Homo sapiens: one gene and its partners. The protein of the gene in region 1 interacts with the protein of each later gene in a biochemical or structural test. Each region holds a gene or a part of one and is shown on either strand. Other genes may lie near its edges. The genes, in order: XRCC3, SWSAP1 and ZSWIM7.

What was found.
Region 2: the proteins of XRCC3 (region 1) and SWSAP1 form a complex in vitro, tested with the Homo sapiens proteins (one study listed by BioGRID).
Region 3: the proteins of XRCC3 (region 1) and ZSWIM7 form a complex in vitro, tested with the Homo sapiens proteins (one study listed by BioGRID).

What each region holds. Positions count from the first base shown.
Region 1 is NC_000014.9:103,712,375-103,720,066, forward strand, and holds the start of XRCC3 (DNA repair protein XRCC3), read right to left. Parts: upstream 3,078-7,692; 5' UTR 3,050-3,077; exon of another isoform or gene 2,963-3,049; intron 2,949-2,962; exon of another isoform or gene 2,657-2,948; intron 595-2,656; exon of another isoform or gene 558-594; 5' UTR 501-557; intron 1-500. Other genes in the region: ZFYVE21 (zinc finger FYVE domain-containing protein 21), read left to right, coding at 3,468-3,605. UniProt on the Homo sapiens protein: Involved in the homologous recombination repair (HRR) pathway of double-stranded DNA, thought to repair chromosomal fragmentation, translocations and deletions. Part of the RAD51 paralog protein complex CX3 which acts in the BRCA1-BRCA2-dependent HR pathway.
Region 2 is NC_000019.10:11,369,873-11,376,711, forward strand, and holds SWSAP1 (ATPase SWSAP1), read left to right. Parts: upstream 1-4,793; 5' UTR 4,794-4,808; coding exon 4,809-5,057; intron 5,058-5,640; coding exon 5,641-6,144; 3' UTR 6,145-6,297; downstream 6,298-6,839. UniProt on the Homo sapiens protein: ATPase which is preferentially stimulated by single-stranded DNA and is involved in homologous recombination repair (HRR). Has a DNA-binding activity which is independent of its ATPase activity.
Region 3 is NC_000017.11:15,989,630-15,996,734, forward strand, and holds part of ZSWIM7 (zinc finger SWIM domain-containing protein 7), read right to left. Parts: intron 4,150-7,105; coding exon 4,128-4,149; intron 1-4,127. UniProt on the Homo sapiens protein: Involved in early stages of the homologous recombination repair (HRR) pathway of double-stranded DNA breaks arising during DNA replication or induced by DNA-damaging agents. Required for meiotic progression, hence for fertility.

The DNA of each region.
Region 1 (7,692 bases):
CCAAACTGCTGGCAGAGCTGGCCAGAGTGAGGAAGTGAGGTTCCCAAGCACAGAAGGCAAATCAAAAAGGAATGCCACCTCCAGGGAAGACACTACACTGCCAAAGGAGATGCGGCCTTGCCCGGCTCGAAAAGAGGTCATTTTCAGAACATGGGACTCTCCAAGCCCTGAGGACAGGAGGCAGCCTGGGGAGTATGAACCTCGCACCTGGTAGGGGACCCCACACCCGAGGTACCACCCAAAACACAGCCCAGATCTGCACGGAGGGATGGTTCCCTGAGCAGGCGTGACTGTCACAGACAGGCTGGGCCTGGGGGCTGTCGGGAGGCTGCTGTCCCAGGCTGGGTCTGGATACAAAACTTGGACTGTGTCAAGCAGCGGGACGCTGGCAGGAGCACCGGGAAGGCCAGCACGTGGCTGCAACGTCTCCCGCCTTCAGGACGCGGGCCGAGGCCAAGGCACCTGGAAGCAGAGTGTCCACTGACGGATAACAGACTCACCGGTTGGCCAACGGCAGTCCGGCTCCTGAGGCTCCTCCTGGGCCCTCTGTGCACATCCTGCTGAGAACTTGGTTTAACAGGCCTGGCTCAAAGTCTGTTTAGTGACGACCTCCTCCCGTGTCCCATCACCCTTGACAGCTGATTAGGCGCCTCATCTTCCACTGTCCCCCGGGCGGCCTGATCTGGCAGGTCAGTTGAACCTGCATCCCCTTCGCCCCTGGGGGTTCCTCTTAGCAACCTTCCATCCTCTGCCCCTGCCCAGCTCTGGAGCTGTAAGCCGCCACCAGCCCATGGCCTGTTCAGAGCTGAGCCCAGCCTCTCTCCCACTGCAAGACCGCAGTGTGGTGGTTCCCACATCTCTCAAAGGTTCTGAATGAAAGCCTGGTCTCTGCCTAACGTGCTTTCACAGATATCCTGGAATATTTTCCCTTTAACACCAAGCACCTGCCGCATCCCAGACACTGGCCTGGGAGCTCCACAGACAGCCCGGCACATGCCTCTGTCCTCTCGCCGCTGTGAGGGGCAGGGGTGTGACCAGCCCATCTCTCTACACCGGGGTGAAGGCCACACACAGGGAGCAGCCCACAGCAGGCAAGGGGCTGGCCCAAGACAGACCTGTATGTCTTCCTGCAGCACCCGAGCTGAGCAATGACTTCAGGGGGAGAGCTGATGTCACGTGCTGCTAGGTGAGTACGGACGGTCACACCAGAGCTGTTAGGCTCACACACCAGACTCTGGAAATGCCGTGGTTACTGCCTGGAGCTGCTCTGAGCCTTCCGAGGTGGACTCACTCCTCTGCCTTGGGCCCTGGGACCTGCTGTGTAGCTTTGAAGTGATTCACAGCACTTACATAGTCTGATGTTTTGGGGTGACCTGACCCCCCTGCAAGAGTGTGATGTCTTATCAGACCACATATGTGAGGACTTGAGTGAACTCCGCAACCTTGGGAATGCCACTTAAACCTTGTCAGACACTCCCTTATGTGAGTTACTGACCCTGACTGCTGGACTGCAAAAACAGACATCAGCTTGAAGGTTGTGCAGATGCTTTGAGGCAAGCTATACGCTGCTGGCCTGGGAGCTGGACCTCGGTCCCAGCTTCTCAGAGAGCTCCCGCTCTCACGCTCTCCACTGCTACCAAGGCAAACCTCGAACTCTCACCAGATCTCACTCTCCAGGGGCCCGCTCCATCCCAGCAGAGCAACCGGACCCTGGCCGTTCTGCCACTCACCTCCCTGCCGTGAATGCACCCCATCCATGGAGGCCCTGCTTCCCTGCCAGGTGTCTTCACCTCCTCCCCTCTCCTCCCCTCTGAGCACTGTGAACCCGAGAACAAATCTTCTTTGACAATAAACCGTGTGATTCGTGGAATCATACTTTGATCATCTCCTTATTTCCTCCACACACAAGGACCCCTGCACTGCCAATGGCCCCAGGAGAGGGCAGAGTCAGCCACAGGGACCCCACCTCACAGGCTTCAACACTGCTGATGCCTGTCATCCCAGCACCGTGGGAGGCCAAGGCGGCCAAGGTCGCCTGAGCCCAGGAGTTCAAGACCAGCCTGGGCAACACAGCAAGACCTACTCTCTACCGAAAAAAAAAAAAAAAAAGAAAAATAGCTGGCCAGTGTAGTGGCGCTTGCGGTCCCAGCTACTTGAGAGCCTGGGAGGTCGAGGTTGTGCCTAGCTGTGAAGACGCCACTGCACTCCACCCCGGATGACAGAGCCAGACTGTCTCAAAAAAAACAATAAAAATTCACGCCTTGTAATAAGGAATTAAAGGCAGGATGAACAAACATTTTCTTCTTTTTTTTGTGTGCTTTCTGAGATGGAGTCTTTTTCTGTAGCCCAGGCTGGAGTGCAGTAATGTGATCTCGGCTCACTGCAACCTCCGCCTCCCGGGTCCTGGTTCAAACAATTCTCCTGCCTCAGCCTCCCAAGCAGCTGGGATTACAGGCACGTGCCACCACACCCAGCTAATTTTTGTATTTTTAGTAGAGACGGGGTTTCACCATGTTGGCCAGGCTGGTCTTGAACTCCTGACCTCGTGATCCGCCCGCCTCGGCCTCCCAAAGTGCTCGGATTACAGGCGTGAGCCACCGCGCCCGGCCTAAAGGATTTTCTTTCCAAATCAAAGTATTAAAATAACTGTTCAGACCTCTCCCACTTCGATGCGAAGCCAGCGCGGTCCCAGGCGGACGAGCGAAGGCATCGAAGGCCGGGGGCGCAGCCGCGGGCCCACCTCGGCCTCCCCTGAGCGGACGCCTCCCCGCGCGCACCGGGGGCCCCGGAGACCGCCTTCCCCGCTCCGAACGCACGCGGCCCGGCCCCGGCGAGGTGCCTGAACGCTACCCGAGCTGCGGCGGGGCTCCCGGGGTGAGTGCTGCAGCCCCAGGCCCGCCTGCTCCCACAGGCTCGGGCAATGGAGACCCGCGGCCGCCCCCGCCCCTTGACCCTGCCTCACCCCTCACGCCCGCTGCCGCCCACGACCTCCGACCCCGCTGCCGCCCGGCTCGCAGCCCGGCTCGCAGCCCGGCTCGGCGGGCCTCACCTCCCGCGGGTTCCGCACTCCTCTTCCCGCCGTCCTGCTCCTCTCGGCCTTCTCCTCCAATAGGCGCCTAGCACCCTGAGTGGGCTACACCAATCAGAGACGAAGCGGCGCTAACGTGACTGACTAACTAACCAATCCAAAGTCTCAATCTCCCTGAGAGGGGCGGAGCGTACCCGGGCCAGCCCTCGCCGCCGATTGGTGATCGACCTCAGGGTTGCAGGGGCGGTGCCCTTACACGGATTGGAGAGGGCAGCGATGGGGCGGAGTTCAAGCTCCGATTAGTCCGCGCTCCGTGGCGGGCTTGGCGATTGGACGCCGGCGCTGTCAGCCGCGCGCGGACCGGGGCGGGGCGGGCGGTGCCCCGGGCTGGGCGAGGGGCCGGGTGCGGGGCCGCTGGCCGAGAGGCTGAGGCGGCGTCATGTCCTCCGAGGTGTCCGCGCGCCGCGACGCCAAGAAGCTGGTGCGCTCCCCGAGCGGCCTGCGCATGGTGCCCGAACACCGCGCCTTCGGAAGCCCGTTCGGCCTGGAGGAGCCGCAGTGGGTCCCGGACAAGGAGGTGGGTGGCCGTCGCCCCGGCCAGCGCCTCCGACCCGCCCCGCCGCCCCGGCCCGGCCCCGCGGGCTTCCAGGCTCCCGCGACGACCCCTCCGCCTCCGGGCGGCCCCTTCCCCAGCCGGCCCCCGCCCCCGCTCTCTCCCAGGTTGGCCGCGTCCCCGGGCCGCCGCCTCAGGCTCCTACGCCCGCGGGGAGGGCGGGAGGCGCGCGGTGTCCCGGTGCGGGGGTCCCGGGAGGGCAGGAGGCACCTGTCCAGGGCGGGCGCCGGGAGGCGGGGTGCGGGGCGCGGGCTGGTCCCGGGGGTGGGTGCGGCCCTGCCCGAGGCCGGTTCGTGCTGGGCTAGCGCGTGTGGACTGCGTCCCGAGAGCTGGGGCTCGCTCCCGAGAAAGTGGAAGGCGGAGCGCCTTCCTCGCAGGCTCGGTGGGGAGGGCGCGTGCTGTCCGCGGAAGCGCTGGAGCTGGCGGCCCCGCAGGGGTCCCTCCCGGGAACCGGGGGAGGCGTCGGTGCCGCGGGCGGGTGGCCGGTTCCGAAGCCACCTCCTGCTCGGAAGGAGGGCCAGGACCCAGTCTGCGGGCCAGGCTGCCCCCCGTTTCCCTTCGTCTATACCACCCTCCACCTCGGAAGCGAGGTCGCAGTCGCCCACTGGACAGTTTGAAGGAGACCGCAGATTTGCACCCGTTTCCCATGGGCCCAGACACGGCAGGAGTTGCCCAGGCCACTCCTGCAGACATTGGGGCGTGGGCGTGGGGTCCCTGAGCCAGGCCATCCGCTGGGCCTCCCGTGGGGTTCCCTGTGACCTGATCGGAGGTGCCTTTGCCTCACACCAGCCCCTTGGCCAACTGGGAAGGCCCCGAGTGCATTTAATCCCACTGGCTGTGCGCTAACAGGTGTGTCCAGTTTCTGTTCTGTGGATTTTACCACGATAAAAAAAAAATTGGGGGAGAAAAAGAATTTTTGTAATATGACTTTCATACTTAACACGTGTTACAGATTCGTTTAATTCCCTCAGTGATAGAACTAAGCAGACGTTGGAACTAGGTTCAAGAAGTCAAAGTAGCACTAATTGACTGGGTTCATTGAAGCTTGGTTGGAGGCCTGGTGGGGGGTGAGCGGCCACAGAGCCTCGGGGACAGGACGGAATTCGAGTGACTCTGGGGAAGTGTCTCTGGCATCTACAGTGTACGGAGCCATCACCGGTCACTGAGCGTGTCCTGGAGAGTTGAGACCAGTGCTGCCCACCTCTCCCCAGTATCGCCACCATGAGGAGTCTTTTTAGACACTTTCCGCCAATCATCCTCCTTCATCTTTTTTAAAATTTACTTTTAAGTTGACACGTGAAAATTGTATTTATGGTGTAACGAACTCTTAATAGCACAGAAATACTCTACGTCTGTATGAACCGTAAGGAGCACGTGAGAAAGTGTGGCCAAGATGAGGCAGAGGTTTCCACCAAAGCACAATTTCTTTCTCCCTGCTGTACACATGCACTGATCTTACGGTTCTGTTTTATAGTGAACCACTGTGTTCCCCTCCTTCATTCTCTCTTCCAGAGCCCTTCTGGTATCAGCTGAATTGTTTAGCATTTTTCCCTGCCTTTCTTTGTGGCCTCTGCTGAGGCACTGTGTGGCAGTCCCGCGGTGACTTCCGACTGAGTGGAGTTGAAACACTTGAGTCAAGGTGGCACCCCTCGTGGAAGAGAAGATTCATTCCCACGCTGGCGTGGTGGCAGGATACCCCTCCAGAGCCCCCCACCATGTTTGGATGATTAACTGGGATCTGAGCAGCTGAGGGAGGTCCTAGCATTGGGTGGGCTTGGGGGACAGAGAAACCATTCTAATAAGATGGACTTTGTCTCTGAGTTTTGCGTTGTGAATTGTATTGGAGCATGGTCTTACAGGCCAGAAACGACCAAAGACAGTGTTCTGGAGGAACTTAGAACGGGGCAGTAAGGGCTGGAAGATTTGGAATAAAGTCCAGCTTTAGGTGCAATAGCTCGAGGGGACATGTACGGTAACAGTCGCCTGGCATGTGGTGATGCTGAAGGGGACACTGAGCTACACTGTGCTGGCTGCGTGCTTGGGGCCGCTAAGGTGATTGTCGGGAGGTGACTCAAATGTGCAGATAACCAGTTGTGGGAAATAGGTTTATTTGAGGTGGTTTGGAATGGGGAGAGGAGAATTTGGTAGAACTTGGCAGGTGGGTAACATTGTCCTTGGCTTGGTGGCCGTGTGCCGATCGGCATCATCGTCATATCTGTAAACGTGTTGGTCCATTTTCATTCCAGCTCTGTTCTTAGCCAGGGGAGTCTGAATCCAGCCCAGTGCCCGTCTCCCGAATACCAGCTGCCTGACCGGGCTGGTTTATCAGTTTGGGCCCATGAGGGTTATCCCTTTAAAATGCTGCAAAACCCCCTGGGGAGCATGTGCACACATGCACCTTTCTCCGAGAGGTGGCCTGCAGCTCTCAGATTCTCAAGGCTCTGACGCAGAACCAGTTGAGAATCGTTTCTCCAGTCTGTGCCTCCTCAGGAACCTGTGGGGCAGGGGAGGCAGAGGCGGCGTGTAAAGCTTCGTGCGACACCACTTTGGATAGAGGTGCTTTGGGGGTGTGAAGGAAGCTTCAGATGATCTCTGGGGCTTGTCTGACTCTGCCATCAAATATCCGACACTGACGCAAGGCAGTGGGCTTGGGGGTGGGCGGTCCGGGCGTGCAGCCATCTGGGCTTGTCACAAGCAGCTGAGATCCTGAGTTTTATCCTTAAAATCCTTGCCGCTGTGCACCCCTCCCACCTCCCATCCGTGGTGCTGGCAGAAGAATGACCGCAGCTCCATGCTGGCGGGTTGACACTTTGATGGATACTCTAGATTCAGAGCCAGGAAGGAGAGAGCACGTGCGCGTCTGATCACGAGCCTGGACTCGGATGAGGAGAGATCTGAAGTGAGGACTGTTGCTAGAGGCGTCTGGAGCTGTGCAGCGGGGAGAACAGGGGACCCTGAGTTCTGCGAGGGTCTCACAGGCCAGGCCGGACAGGGCTTTTCTTTTGCAGGGAGGAGTGGCCAAGGCTAGAAAGAATCAAGCTGGGGAGGTGGGATGGGCCAGTGGAGGGTCAGGACCTCCAGCAGATCAGAGAGCTGAGGCCAGAATACAAAAATTAGCTGGGCGTGGTGATGAGTGCCTGTAATTCCAGCTACTTGGGAGGCTGAGACAGGAGAATCACTTGAACCCAGGAAGTGGAGGTTGCAGTGAGCTGAGATCGTGCAGCTGCACTCCAGCCTGGGCGACCAAGCGAGACTCCGTCTCAAAATAAATAAATAAATAATAAAAATTCAAAAATTAGTCGGGCGTGGTGGTGTGTGCCTGTATCCCAGCTCAGGAGGCTGAGGCAGGAGAATCACTTGAACCGGGAAGAGGAGGTTGCAATGAGCCAAGATTGTGCCACTGCACTTCAGCCTGGGTGACAGAGCAAGACTCTGTCTCAAAAAAAAAAAAAAAAAAGTCCAGGTAAGGGAATTGTGTTCCAGTTGATCATGAGGAGAAATGGCCAGTGTTTTCTGAGGCAGAGAATGGGAATTTGGAGGGCCTTGCTGCAGGTAAGCAAGGGGGGCATCTGTGATCTCCTCTGGCTCGTATGGGGAGGGTGGTTCTCGGTGGAAGGCTTTCCCAGCACACTGCAGGGTGGGGGGTTTCATAATTGTTTCCAGGATCTCAGCGCTTGGGTAAAGCTCACCCCTGTGAGGTGCCAGGGGCTGCCAGAGCCTCCACAGGTGTTCTGGGAACCAGCAGCCTCATGAGATACTGCCAGGGACACCAGCGAGCTCCTCAAGGGTCCCTGTGGCTGGCTAAGAGCTTTTTCTTTTTTGAGACAAGGTGTTGCTGTGTCACCCAGGCTGGAGAGCTGTTACTGATGTTAGGTAAAACTGAGACTTTGAAGCCACAAAAAAGGATTCCTGGGCGTCCTGTGGGAGGCCAGGCCGCCTGTAGCATAACCCTCCCAGGCTGTGATCATAGTGTCTGCACCTGTCACCGTCTTCAAACTGTCTGACAGCTTCAAATTGTAGAAAACTGATAGTAACGCACGTGTTTCTAGTC
Region 2 (6,839 bases), on another chromosome or scaffold:
GGAAGAATCAGGTCCCATTCAGGAGGGTGGTGACAGCAGCCCTGGCCTTGCACCAACCCCCATACTGGGATAGATGATCTTAGAGAACACAGGCTGGCTTGTACCTGTTTGGGATTGGCTGGGCGTGGTGGCTCACGCCTGTAATCCCAGCACTTTGGGAGGCCGAGCCAGGCGGATCACTTGAGGTCAGGGGTTTGAGACCAGCCTGGCTAACATAGTGAAACACCATTACTACTAAAAATACAAAAAATTAGCTGAGCGTGGTGGTATGCGCCTGTAATCCCAGCTACTCAGGAGGCTGAGGCAGGAGAATCGCTTGAACCCAGGAGGCAGAGGTTGCAGTGAGCAGAGATCATGCCATTGCGCTCCAGCTTGGGCAACAAAAGCGAAACTCCAGCTCAAAAAAAAAAAAAAAAATGAAAGCCTTCTCAGCTGGGCACAAGTGGCTCATTCCTGTAATCCCAACACTATGGGAGGTCTAGGTAGGAGGATTGCTTGAACCCAGGAGTTTGAGATCAGCCTAGGCAATGTAGCAAGACCCTGCTCTCTAAAAAGTAAAGCGTTTAGGCCTGGAGCAGTGGCTCACGCCTGTAATCCCAGCACTCAGAGAGGCTGAGGTGGCAGATCACCTGAGGTCAGGAGTTCAAGACCAGATTGGCCAACATAGTGAAACCCCATCTCTACTACAATTACAAAAATTAGCCAGGAGTGGCAGCATGCGCCTGTAATCCCAGCTACTCAGGAGGCTGAGGCAGGAAAATCACTTGAACCCGGGAGGCGGAGGTTGCAGTGAGTCCAGATCGCACCATTGCACTCCAGCCTGGGTGACAGTGCGAGACTCGGTCTCAAAAAATAAAAAAACGACAACAACGACAACAAAAATCAAAAGCCTTCTCAACATGCCCCTGTGGGTCTCACAGCATCTCAATCTCAAGTTGACTAAAACAGAGCTCTCTGATTTAGAATGTCACAACACAACTATCCCAGGCACAGAGCTCTCTCCTGTCTCCTCATGACTCGAGTAAAAGCCAACTTTCTCCCAATGCCTCAGGGCCCTTGCACTGAATGAATTCTCCACCTAGAATGTTCTTCCCCTGCATATTTGCACAGTTCACACCCTGACCTCTCTCAGGCCTTTTCTCAAATGTCGCCTTCCCAGCCTGACCCAACCACCCTATTCAAAATTGAAAAAACAACTGGCCCTTCCTTCTAACTTCCCTTCCTTGTGCAAATTTCTTTTCTTTTTTTTTCTTTTGAGATGGAGTCTTGCTCTGTCACCCAGGCTGGAATGCAATGGTGCGATCTCAGCTCACTGCAACCTCCACCTCCTGGGTTCAAGTGATTCTCCTGCCTCAGCCTCCTGAGTAGCTGTGATTACAGGCGCCCCACCCCGCCCAGCTAATTTGTGTATTTTTAGTAGAGATGGGGTTTCACCATGTTGGTCAGGCTGGCCTCAAACTCCCGACATCAGGTGATCCGCCCGCCTCAGCCTCCCAAAGTGCTTGGATTACAGGGGTGAGTCGCCGTGCCCGGTCCCTTGTGCAAATGTCTTTTTGCCTATGCTTGTCATGTGCTCACAGTGTTTCAATTCCTCGTGATGCTCAGTGGGTCTTTATAGGTCTCCCTCACTCGGATGTCGCTCCACCAGGACAGAGATTTGATCTGTTGTCTGTTCACTGTGGGGTCTACAGTTACTAGAATGGGCCCTGATACATAGTAGATACTATTGCTTGAGGATGCCAGTAAACTAAGGATAGGCACAGAGTGACCCCAAGCCACCTAGTTCCTACCCTGTAGCCCCAGGTCCAACCCTACCTGCAGGCAGGTACATTCCTCCATGATTCTCCTCTATGGTAAATCTTCTTCTGTCAAGATGTGAAGACAGGCCAGACACAGTGGCTCATGCCTATAATCCTGGCACTCTGGGAGGCCAAGACAGGCGGATCATCTGAGGTCAGGAGTTTGAGACCAGCCTCGCCAACATGGTGAAACCCCATCTCTACTGAAAGAAATACAAAAGAAAAAAAAATAAGCTGGGCATAGTGGTGTGTACCTGTAATCCAAGCTACCCGGAAGGCTGAGGCAGGAGAATTGCCGGAACCCGGGAGGTAGAGGCTGCAGTGAGCCGAGATCGCGCCACTGCACTCCAACCTGGGTGACAGAGCGAGACTCCGTCTCGAAAAAACAAAACAACACAACAACAATAACAACAAAAACAGATAATCAGTTAAAGAGTGAAATGTGTGCAATTTTGGGCAGGCAGTCAGGGGAAGCCTCTCTGAGTAGATGATATTTTGACCAAAGACCTAAAAAGAGTGGAGGGAAAAAAAAGTCGGCTGGACTCGGTGGCTCACACCTGTAATCCCAGCACTTTGGGAGGCCAAGGCGGGCAGATCACCTGAGGTCAGAAGTTTGAGACCAGTCTGACCAACACGGAGAAACCCCGTCTGTACCAAAAATACAAAATCAGCCGGGCGTGGTGGTACATGCCTGTAATCCCAGCTACTTGGGAGGCTGAGGCAGGAAAATCACTTGAACCTGGGAGACGGAGGTTGTGATGAGCCAAGATTGCACCATTGCACTCCAGCCTGGGCAACAAGAGCAAAACTCCATCTCAAAAAAAAAAAAAAAAAAAAAAGCCAGAAGGATATCTGGAAGCTGACTGCTGCACACACAAGAACATCAAGTGCAAAGGACTTGTGGTGAGGCTGTATTCAGCATGCTCCCATGTATGTAACTGTGCTGGACTCTGTGATGTGGGTGTCACTACTGAGTATTTGTGCATTTTTGTTTGTTTTTGTTGAGATAGGGTCTCGCTATGTTGCCCAGGCTGGAGTGCAGTGGCACAATCACTGCTCACTGCAGCTTTGACTTCCTTGGGCTCAAGCAATCCTCCTGCCTCAGACTCCCAAGGAGCTGGGACTACAGGTGCACGCCACCACACCTGGCTAAATTTTTTTTTTTTTTTTTGAGACAGAGTCTCGCTCTGTCGCCCAGGCTGGAGTGCAGTGGCGCGATCTCGGCTCACTGCAAGCTCCATCTCCCGGGTTCACGCCATTCTTCTGCCTCAGCCTCCCAAGCAGCTGAGACTACAGGCGCCTGCCACCATGCCTGGCTAATTTTTTTTTCTATTTTTAGTAGAGGCTGGGTTTCACCGTGTTAGCCAGGATGGTCTTGATCTCCTGACCTTGTGATCTGCCCACCTCGGCCTCCCAAAGTGCTGGGATTACAGGCGTGAGCCACCGCGCCCGGCCAACACCTGGCTAATTTTGAAGTATTTTGTAGAGATGGGGGTCTCCCTACATTGCCCAGGCTGGTCTTGAACTCTTGGCCTCAGGCAATCCTCTTGCCTTGGCCTCCCAAAGCACTGGGACTACAGACATAAGCCACCACACCTGGCCTGTATGTGCATTTGGAGTGTTGAAATGTGAGGTGAATCATGCGTTGTATATCTGCTGGGGGATGGGGGCTGAGGTGGCGTGTTTGACAGCGCAGTGTATCGGTGTGCTTCACTGTGTGTGTCTGTGTGTGTAGTGGCAATGTCATAGTTGCGTGTTTTGCAAGAGAAAGGGTGTGGGGGATGAATGTGGGACAGAGTTTGTATGGGATGCTTTGTGTCAGGATAGGGCAAGGTTGGAGCATGTGGATGATGGGGATTCTGAAAGTAGAATATATTCAGAGATGCCATGGTGTGTGTGTGTGTGTGTGTGTGTGTGTAGAGGGGTGTGAGTGAGCCCAGCTGTGTGAGTGGGTGTGTTGGGGGATGTCGTGGAGCTGTTTTCTGGTCCCAGAGGGAGAGAGAAAGCCCAGGAAATCTCACTTTCTCCCTGCCCCTGGGTCTCCAGGCAACGGCACCACTTTGGAGTTACCAGGAGACAAGGTTGCCAGGGCAACACAGGCGTGAGTGGCAGCTCTGGGGCGAAGTCTGGGTGAGAAGATCCAGCCAGGGATCACGATCATTCACTTTGTTCCTCCCTTTCTCCCTGTTTCTCATCAATCCCACCTCCCTTCCTTCATTGTCTTAACGAGCACGTATTTGAGAACCTACAAATGTGCTAGGTGCTATTCTCGGTACTGGAGAACAGAAGTGAACAAGACAATGTCCCTGCTGTATCTCTCCTTCAGTCTTCCAGCTCCTGTCTCTTTATCTCTCCTGCTTCCTTCTTTGTCCTGCGGTCCTGCCTTCCCCCCGTACCACAAAGGCGGCCCCACAGAACCCCTTAGCCAGTGAGGAAGTAAGTTGAGAGGCTTCATCTCACAGACTTTCGGGGATGGCCGTTGATGTTTTGTCCACGAGCCTGTGTCCCCAGACACACACTCCGGCCCATACTCAGGTGCACAGAAAGACAAGCACACAGCTCATCCCCCTCTCCAAAACTCTCAGTTGTCATTGGATGACATCAGCAAAACCACACACAAATACATGCCGATCACAATACTCCTCTGAGATATCATAAGCCCCATTTTACAGCAGGGCAAACTGAGGCTAGGAGCCTTTAAATAATATGTCACTCATTCTGGTCTACTCCTCCAACTTTCAACCCTTATATTTGTCTGATTAGCTGACAATAATAGTATTCGTGCTGGTTCCCCCAGCAGCCTCCCTCAGGGAAGGGTCTTATTTCCCTCGAATGCACCCATTCCTCCGCATAGGTTCTAACCATTTGCCCATTCACCTGAGGAATCGAGTTTTGATGGACAGATTCCTAGACCAATAGAGAAACTAAGTGAACTGTACCGATGCGGCCACGGCTTGGGCGGGACTAAGGCTGGGAACGAGCCACCGATTGGTCAGAGCTACGCGGCGAATGGCGGAGACGCTGAGGCGGGTGCTAACCAGGGGCGGTGCGGCCTGGTCCGGGGAGGAGAACATGCCTGCCGCCGGACCGCCTTTGCTGCTGCTCGGTACACCAGGATCTGGAAAAACAGCGCTGCTATTTGCTGCGGCCCTAGAGGCGGCGGGGGAGGGCCAAGGCCCAGTCCTCTTCCTGACACGAAGGCCTCTTCAAAGCATGCCCCGCGGGACCGGAACGACTCTAGACCCAATGCGACTCCAGGTAACCGTGGGGGTGGGAGCAGAGGCGTTCTAGCCAATGGTGGAGTAGATCCGGGATATTGAGTAACAGGTAGACAAGCCAATGGAGAGGACGGTGGAAGAGCGAGCCAGGGCAGCCACGATGGGGCGGAGTCAGGCAGGCGGAGTGAGGAGTGGCACCACGCGGAGCTTAGTTAAGATTGAAGTGAGAGCCCATCCAATGATGGGCGGTGTTAGCAAGAGGCGGTGCCCAGAGATTGAAGTCCGGCCCATCAAGGGGCGGGGCTAAGCTTGGGTCCATTCTGGACCTGAGTTGGTTCCTGTTAGTGTCAAGGATGGGGTCAGACCGAGAATGCTGGGGGAGGGTTTTCCGTGGAAAAATTGCGCTAGAGATTTGGCCAAAAACAAACAAGCAAAAATGGCTTGCCCTCAACTAATACTCGGCAGTGATGAGTGCTGGAAAAACGGGCGAATATAAGAATATTTAACAGCTCTGAACTGGTTCATCCTGGAACCAAGGAAAGTATGCAAGGAGGCAGGGTTACTTTTAAGGAGTCTGGCTTCCTGTGCTGAATCCGGCCCTTTCCTTCTGTTTCTCCTTCTAGAAGATCCGCTTCCAGTACCCACCCTCAACCCGAGAGCTTTTCCGGCTCCTGTGCTCTGCCCATGAGGCCCCGGGGCCAGCCCCCTCCCTTCTGCTGCTCGACGGCCTAGAAGAGTACCTAGCGGAAGACCCAGAGCCCCAGGAAGCCGCCTACCTCATTGCCTTACTTCTAGACACAGCTGCCCACTTCAGCCACCGGCTTGGGCCTGGCCGGGATTGTGGGCTCATGGTGGCCCTCCAGACCCAGGAGGAAGCAGGTAGTGGGGACGTCCTGCACCTGGCACTGCTCCAGCGGTATTTTCCTGCCCAGTGCTGGCTGCAGCCAGATGCACCAGGTCCAGGAGAGCACGGCCTCCGAGCCTGCCTGGAGCCAGGCGGGCTGGGCCCCAGAACAGAGTGGTGGGTGACTTTCCGATCAGATGGAGAAATGATGATCGCTCCGTGGCCCACCCAGGCTGGTGACCCCAGCTCAGGCAAGGGTTCAAGCTCTGGAGGCCAGCCCTGAGCTTTGGTGGGTGACTACCTCTCTGTGCTTCAGTTTCCCATGGCTGGAATACTTACCTCAGGGACATATGCAGATCCAAAGACCTAAACAATGTAAAGTGCTTTTTCTCTTTTAAAAGTATAGCATTATCTTGTATATATTTTACCCAATCAATATGTTGTTTATAGTTTCATTGCTTTAAACTTTATAAAAAGAGCTTCAGGCCAGGCGTGGTGGCTCACGCCTGTAATCCCAGCACTTTGGGAGGCTGAGGCGGTCAGATCACCAGAGGTCAGGAGTTGGAGACCAGCCTGCCCAACATGATGAAACCCTGTATCAACTAAAAGTACAAAAAAAATTAGCTGGGTGTGGTGGCAGGTGCCTGTAGTCTCAGCTACTCAGGAGGCTTAGGCAGGAGAATTGCTTGAACCCAGGAAGCGGAGGTTGCAGTGAGCCGAGATTGTGCCACTACACTCCAGCCTGGGTGACAAAGCGAGACTCCATCTCAAAAAAAAAAAAAAAAAAAAGTTTGAGACTTCCTTCTTTTTGCACTCAACGTTGTTACTAAGATTCATCTACATTTTTTTAGTTCATTCCTTTTTCCATATTGCATATAATTCCATGGGTGACTATACCCTGATTTCTTCATCAGATTGCCTTATTTACTGCTGCGAACATTCTTGCACACATGCCCTGGTACGTGTGTGTGTTTTTAG
Region 3 (7,105 bases), on another chromosome or scaffold:
TGTTTTTTGTTTTTTGAGACAAAGTCTCTCTCTGTCACCCAGGCAGGCTGGATTCCAGTGGTGCAATCATGGCTCACTGCAGCCTGAACCCCCTGGGCTCAAGTGATCCTCCCACCACCTCAGCCTCCCTAGCAGCCGGGACTACAGGTATATACCACCACATCCAGTTAATTTTTTGATTTTGTGGAGACAGGGTCTCCCTGTGCTGCCTAAGCTGGTCTCAAACTCCCAGCCCCAAGCGATCCTCATATTACAGGCGTGATCCACCATGCCTGGCCAAAATTTAATTTTTTGAAAAGGCAATAAACCGGCCAGGCGCGGTGGCTCACACCTGTAATCCCAGCACTTTGGGAGGCCGAGGAAGGTGGCTCACGAGGTCAGCAGATCGAGACCATCCTGGCTAACACGGTGAAACCCCGTCTCTACTAAAAATACAAAAAATTAGCTGGGCACGGTAGCAGGCACCTGTAGTCCCAGCTACTTGGGAGACCGAGGCAGGAGAATGGTGTGAACCCGGGAGGCGGAGCTTGCAGTGAGCCGGGATCGCGCCACTGCACTCTAGCCTGGGTGACAGAGCGAAACTCTGTCTCAAAAAAAAAAAAAAAAAAGCAATAAACCAAAATTTAAGAGTGATTATTACTGGGTGGTATGATTATTGATGCTTTTTATAGGTTTTATTTTCCAATAAAAGTTTTTTATAAGTGTGGGTTATTATTATTATTATTATTATTACTGAGTTGGAGTCTCACTGTGTTGCCCAGGTTGGAGTGCAGTGGCACGACCTCTGCTCACTGCAACCTCCACCTCCCAGATTCAAGTGATTCTCCTGCTTTAGCCTCCCGAGTAGCTGGGATTACAGGCGCATCCCACCTCCCAAGGTGCTGGGATTACAGGCATGAGCTACCACACCCGGCCTAAGTGTGGGTTATTTTTATAAACTAGAAAATAAAATGGCAGGGTTAAACTCAAACTGAAAAGTTAATGTTTTAAAGAACTTATATGACTTAACACAGAGTAAGACAAACCTAGTAAGGCTTCAAAATTAAAATGTTCAACTTCTTACTTCATTTTCCAACAAACCAGCCACATATACAACAAATTATTGGGGGAAATAGAAAAGAGTGCTTTGAATTTTTATATTAAACATATGAAGATTTAGTCTATAAAATAACAAAATACAAAAAACAATGAAATAAAATTTGTCGGGAACCTTACCAATCAATCTCAACAGTTACCTTTAAGAATTTTTTTAAGGCCAGGTGTGGTGGCTCATGCCTGTAATCCCAGCACCTTGGGAGGCCAAGGCAGGCGGAACTCCTGACCTCATCATCCACCTGCCTCGGTGTGTGCCACCTGTAGTCCCAGCTACTCAGGAGGCTGAGGCAGGAGAATCACTGGAACCTGGGAGGCAGAGGCTGCAGTGAGTTGAGATCGCGCCACTGTACTCCAGCCTCAGTGACAGAGTGAGACACTGTCTGAAAAAAAAAAGAATTTTTTTAACCTGCTCTGTCCACTTTAATACCTACTGTGAACATCTCTTGAATGCATTAAAAATTTTTCCATATCACTTTTAATGGTTACAAATAATTCTACTGTAAAGATGAATCATTTTTATTCTCCTCAAACTCCATGAATTGTTAGATTGTTTCTATGTTTTATTGCTACCATAAACAATACTGGATATTCATCACACTGAGAATATCCTCACTGTAAAATCTTTACAAACATCTATAATTACTTCCTGGGTATATGTTCTTTTATGTGGAATTTCTGGGTCAAAGAATATGTATGTTTTAAAGTTCCTATTGCCTGTTACCCTGCAATTTACATTCCTGTTATAAATGACCCCTTTCCCCATATTTGTGTCAACTTCTTTTCTGTGGTCACTAATTTTCTAGATGAAAAGTTATGTTATGTTAATTTGTATTTTTGTGGTCACTAGTAAGATTTGTCTTTTTCCTCCCAAAGGATTCGGCTATTTACATCTTTTATTCTTTGCCCTTTTGTTTTTAAAGTAGTACATTTTTTTCCAGTAATATTTAATTCTTATTAAAAATTTAAGAAATACAGTAAAGGTTAAGGCCGTTCCCTCAATTCTACCTCCTTCCTTGCCCCAAAGAAAAAACACTGGTAGAGCTTGGTATATATTCTTCAGAACTTTTATTTTTTTAGAGACAAGGTCTCACATCACCCAGGCTGGAGTGTAGTGGCACAATCATAGCTCACTGCAGCCTGGAACTTCAGGGCTCAAACAGTCCTCCTGGGACAGGTTTTGTTTTTTTTTGTTTGTTTTGTTTTGTTTTGTTTTTTTTTTGAGACAGAGTCTTGCCTCTGTCACCCAGGCTGGAGTGCAATGGCATGATCTCAGCTCACTGCAACCTCTGTCTCCTGGGTTCAAGCGATTCTCCTGCCTCAGCCCCCCGAATAGCTGGGATTACAGGTGCCTGCCACCATGCCCGGCTAATTTTTGTATTTTTAGTAGAGACGGGGTTTCACCATGTTGGTCAGGCTGGTCTCGAACTCCTGACCTCAGGTGATCCACCCGCCTCAGCCTCCCAAAGCGTTGGGATTACAGGCGTGAGCCACCGCACCTGGCCAGGATTTTTAAATGTAAGTGTGTATCAGTAATTAAGTATTACTTATACCTAGGTAGCTTTTACTTTTTTGGTCTCTGCATTTTTAAAATAACTGACCACTCTATATTATTCTCATTTAAGTAGTTGTATCAACTGCAAATAATGATAATTGTCTTTCCTTGCAGATAGGTACATTTGTAATTTCTTTTTCATGTGTTAGTTGAACAGCTACGCTTTTTTTTTTTTTTTTTGAGATAGAGTTTCGCTTTTATTGCCCAGGCTGGAGTGCAATGGCATGATCTTGGCTCACAGCAACCTCTGCCTCCCAGGTTCAAGCAATTCTCCTGACTCAGCCTCCCGAATAGCTGGGATTACAGGAATGCACCACCATGCTTGGCTAATTTTGTATTTTTAATAGTGACAGGGTTTCTCCATGTTGGTCAGGCTGGTCTTGTATTCCTGACCTCAGGTGATTCGCCCGTCTCGGCCTCCCAAAATGCTGCGATTACAGGCGTGAGCCATTGCGCCCGGCCAACAGCCACAATTTTTAAAACAATGTTAAATAAGAGTGGCAAATATGACAATACTGGATATGGTGTTGGCTATTCAATTGAGACAAATTTTTAAGAATCATGTCAAGAAAATATTATTCCTAGTTTCTAAGAGTATTTTTTATTTTTTATTTTTTTTGAGATGGAATTTTGCTCGTTACTTAGGCTGGAGTGCAATGGCACAATCGCAGCGAGATATGCAACCACAACCTCCCGGGTTCAAGCAATTCTCCTGCCTTAGCCTCCCAAGTAGCTGAGATTACAGGTGTGTGCCACCACATCCCACTACTTTTGTATTTTTAGTAGAGACAGGGTTTCACCATGTTGGTCAGGCTGGTCTTGAACTCCTGACCTCAAGTGATCCACCCACCTCAGTCTCTCAAAGTGCTGGGATTGCAGGTGTGAGCCACGGTGCCTGGCCTTTTATTCTATTTTTAAAATTATTTTCGTAGAGATGGGGGGTCTCCCTATTTTGCTAGAGCTGGTCTCGAACTCCTGGGCTCAAGCAATCCTCCTGCCTTTGCCTCCCAAAGTGCTGAGATTACATGTGTGAGTCACAGTGCCTGGTAGTAAGAATATTTTTATTTTTTATTTTATTTATTTATTTATTTATTTATTTATTTATTTTTGAGACAGAGTCTCACTCTGTCCCCAGGCTGAAGTGCAGTGGCATGATCTTGGCTCACTGCAACCTCCACCTCCCAGGTTCAAGTGATTCTCCTGCCTTAGCCTCCTGAGTAGCTGGGACTACAGGTGCCCACCACCACGTCCAGCTAATTTTTTGTATTTTCAGTAGAGATGGGGTTTCACCATGTTGGCCAGGATGGTCTTGATCTCCTGACTTCATGATCCACTCACCTTGGCCTCCCAAAGTGCTGGGATTATAGGCGTGAGCCACTGCGCCCGGTCAAGAGTATTTTTAAAAATCAAGAGTTGATGTTGAAAGGATTTTAACATTAATGGTTAAAAAAAAATCAAATACAACAGTATATGTACTTACGATAACAGATATTCATCAGGAACTGTAAAATGAGAATGGAAAAAAAAAGTTAATCATATTAAGCAGTGACCATTGACATAAAAATCTTAAAAAACACTGTAACTAAAAACACTTCCGTGTGTGATGGTCAACTGAACCTATGCATCTGGTTTTACTCCTTCCCCAAACCCCACTAAAACCATAATAAAAGGATTTCCTTTTTCTTTTTTTGAGACGGAGTCTTGTCCTGTCACCCAGGCTGGAGTGCAATGGTGCAATCTCAGCTCACTGCAACCTCCGCCTCCCGGGTTTAAACCATTCTCTTGCCTCAGCCTCCCAGGTAGCTGGGACTACAGGCATGCACTACCATGCCCAGCTAATTTTTTTTGGTATGTTTAGTAGAGATGGGGTTTCACCATGCTGGCCATGCTGGTCTTGAACTCCTCACCTCAAGTGATCCACTGGCCTTGGCCTCCCAAAGTGCTGGGATTATAGACATGAGCCACCGTGCCCGGCCAGATTTGTTTTTAAAAGTATGAATTCCAAAGGATGAGAAAGACAGGGAGAAACAACAGCCATGATACATTGGAAGCTGATAGAAGAGTGGAAAATGATTTATAAGACCTAAGAAAACTGAATCCTAGGCCAGCAATGGGGAGAGTCAAGCACCAGCCTGAGTTACACTCCAAAATCCACCTCTCCCCTTCCCCAAACCCTAACGAATTGGTGGCACCAAATAGCTTCATTAGGGGTGAAACAGGGATATGAAAATAAGACTCTTTTCGAGTACGTTTGAGAAGTAGTGGGACCCCAGTTCCCTCCACAGCTTTAGGTGACTGCCTTTCCCTCATTCTGGCAAGAGACTAGGTTTATTTTCTGGAGAGGTTCAAACACAGGCTATTTGGACTAGGGAAAAATACTAGGTACAGTGAAAGTCAGGGTGTCACACTGAAAACAGGATCTCCTGCTCTCTTCCCTAACATGGCTCCCATAACACAAGCAATCAGGCCTTCACACTTCAGCCAGGAGACTGGAAGTCTTCCCTAGGTATACCCCAAGAGAAGTGGGAATGACACTGAAATGGTTTCCCCAACTAAATAGCCTACTGAGAACAACTATAGTGACGTTCATATTCCGTAAGCCCCTCTACCACCCAGAGCTTCCAATATACTTTTTAGTCTTCCACTCTGAAATATGACTAGACAGCCAAGGGTTACCAGACAACAAAGGAAAAAGGAAATAGAATAAAACAAACAGAAGAAAGTTAGAGGAAAAACTGCAGAAAGGAGAAAATTTTAAACATCTATTACTAATATTTTATCATCAGAAAAAAGTTAATGCAATCATAAAACAGGCACAAAAACAGGCAGAAGGCATAATAAGAAGAAAAAGGGAATCTTCTGAAAAAAAGTTATAAATTAAAAATACATGGTATGTCTCTGTAGTTTCAGTTACTTGGGAAGCTGAGGCAGGAAGATTGCTTGAAACCAGGAGTCTGAGGCCAGCCTGGGCAACACAGTAAGACCCCGTCTCTCTTTTTTTTTTTTTTGAGACGGAGTTTCGCTCTTGTTGCCCAGGCTGGAGTACAATGACGCAATCTCGGCTTACCGCAACCTCCACTTCCCGGGTTCAAGCAATTCTCCTGCCTCAGCCTACAGAGTAGCTGGGATTACAGGCATGCACCACCACGCCCAGCTAATTTTTTTAGTAGAGACGGGGTTTCTCCATGTTGATCAGGCTGGTCTCGAACTCCCGACTTCAGATGATCTGCCCACCTTGGCCTCCCAAAGTGCTGGGATTACAGGCATGAGCCACTGTGGCCGGCAAGACCCTGTCTCTTAAAAAAAAAAAAAAAAAAAAAAGACAGCAGAAATTCAACAGAAAATCTGGAAGATAAAGTTCAAGAAAGTTCCCAGGAAGTAGAGAAAATATAAAAGCAACACAGAAGCCACAGTAAGTCAACCAGAAGGACAACAGAGGACATCCAGTAACTTAATTACAGAAATACCGGAAAGAACAGAGAAAACAGATGGAGGGAATTCATCAATCAAATAATTCAAAATTCCCCACAGCTGAAGGACATGAATTTCTAGCTTGAAAGGGCCCACTGTGTGCCCACACTGTGAAGTGAAAAAAAAAAAACTTTATCAGAAGATTCAGAACACTGGTTATGAAGAAAACATAATTCAAACTTCCAGAGAAAAAAAAGGTCACATACAAAAATCAGGAGTAACACTAGAAGCTAAGATGTAGTGGAAAAATGTTTTCAGATGTCTGAAGAAATATTATTTCCAACAAATAATTCAATACCTAGACAAACAATCACTTAAGTGTAAGGGCAGAAAAAGAACTTTTTCAGCCGGGCGCGATGGTCAGCCTGACTAACATTTAGTATCTCTACTAAAAATAGAAAAACTATTAGCCGGGCATGGTGGCGCATGCCTGTAATCCCAGCTACTCGAGAGACTGAGGCAGGAGAATCCCTTGAACCCAGGAGGCAGAGGGTGCGGTGAGCAGAGATTGCACCATTGCACTCCAGCCTGGGCAACAAGAGCGAAACTCCGTCTCAAAAAAAACCCAAAAAAACAAAAAAACCCCACAACTTTTTCAGACATAAGCCTCAAACAGGGGCCGGTGTGGGGGCTCACAACTATAATCCCAGCACTTTGGGAGGCCAAGGCAGAAGGATCGCCTGAGCCCAGGAGTTCCAGAGTAGCCTGGGCAACAAAGGAAGACCCGTCTCTACAGAAAATAAAATAATCAGCTGGGCATGAGGTGTGATTGCGCAACTGTACTCTAGCCTGGGGAACAGAGTGAGACCCGGTCTCAAAAAATAGAAAAGAAAGCCTCAAAAGGTACATCTCATGCCCCCTTCTTCAGGAAGCTGGCAGAGTCTGTGTGCCATAATATAAGGTAGTAAGCCTGGGCAACACAGTGAAACCCCGTCTCTACAAACAATACAAAAACTAGCTGGGCATGGTGGTGCACACCTGTGGTAC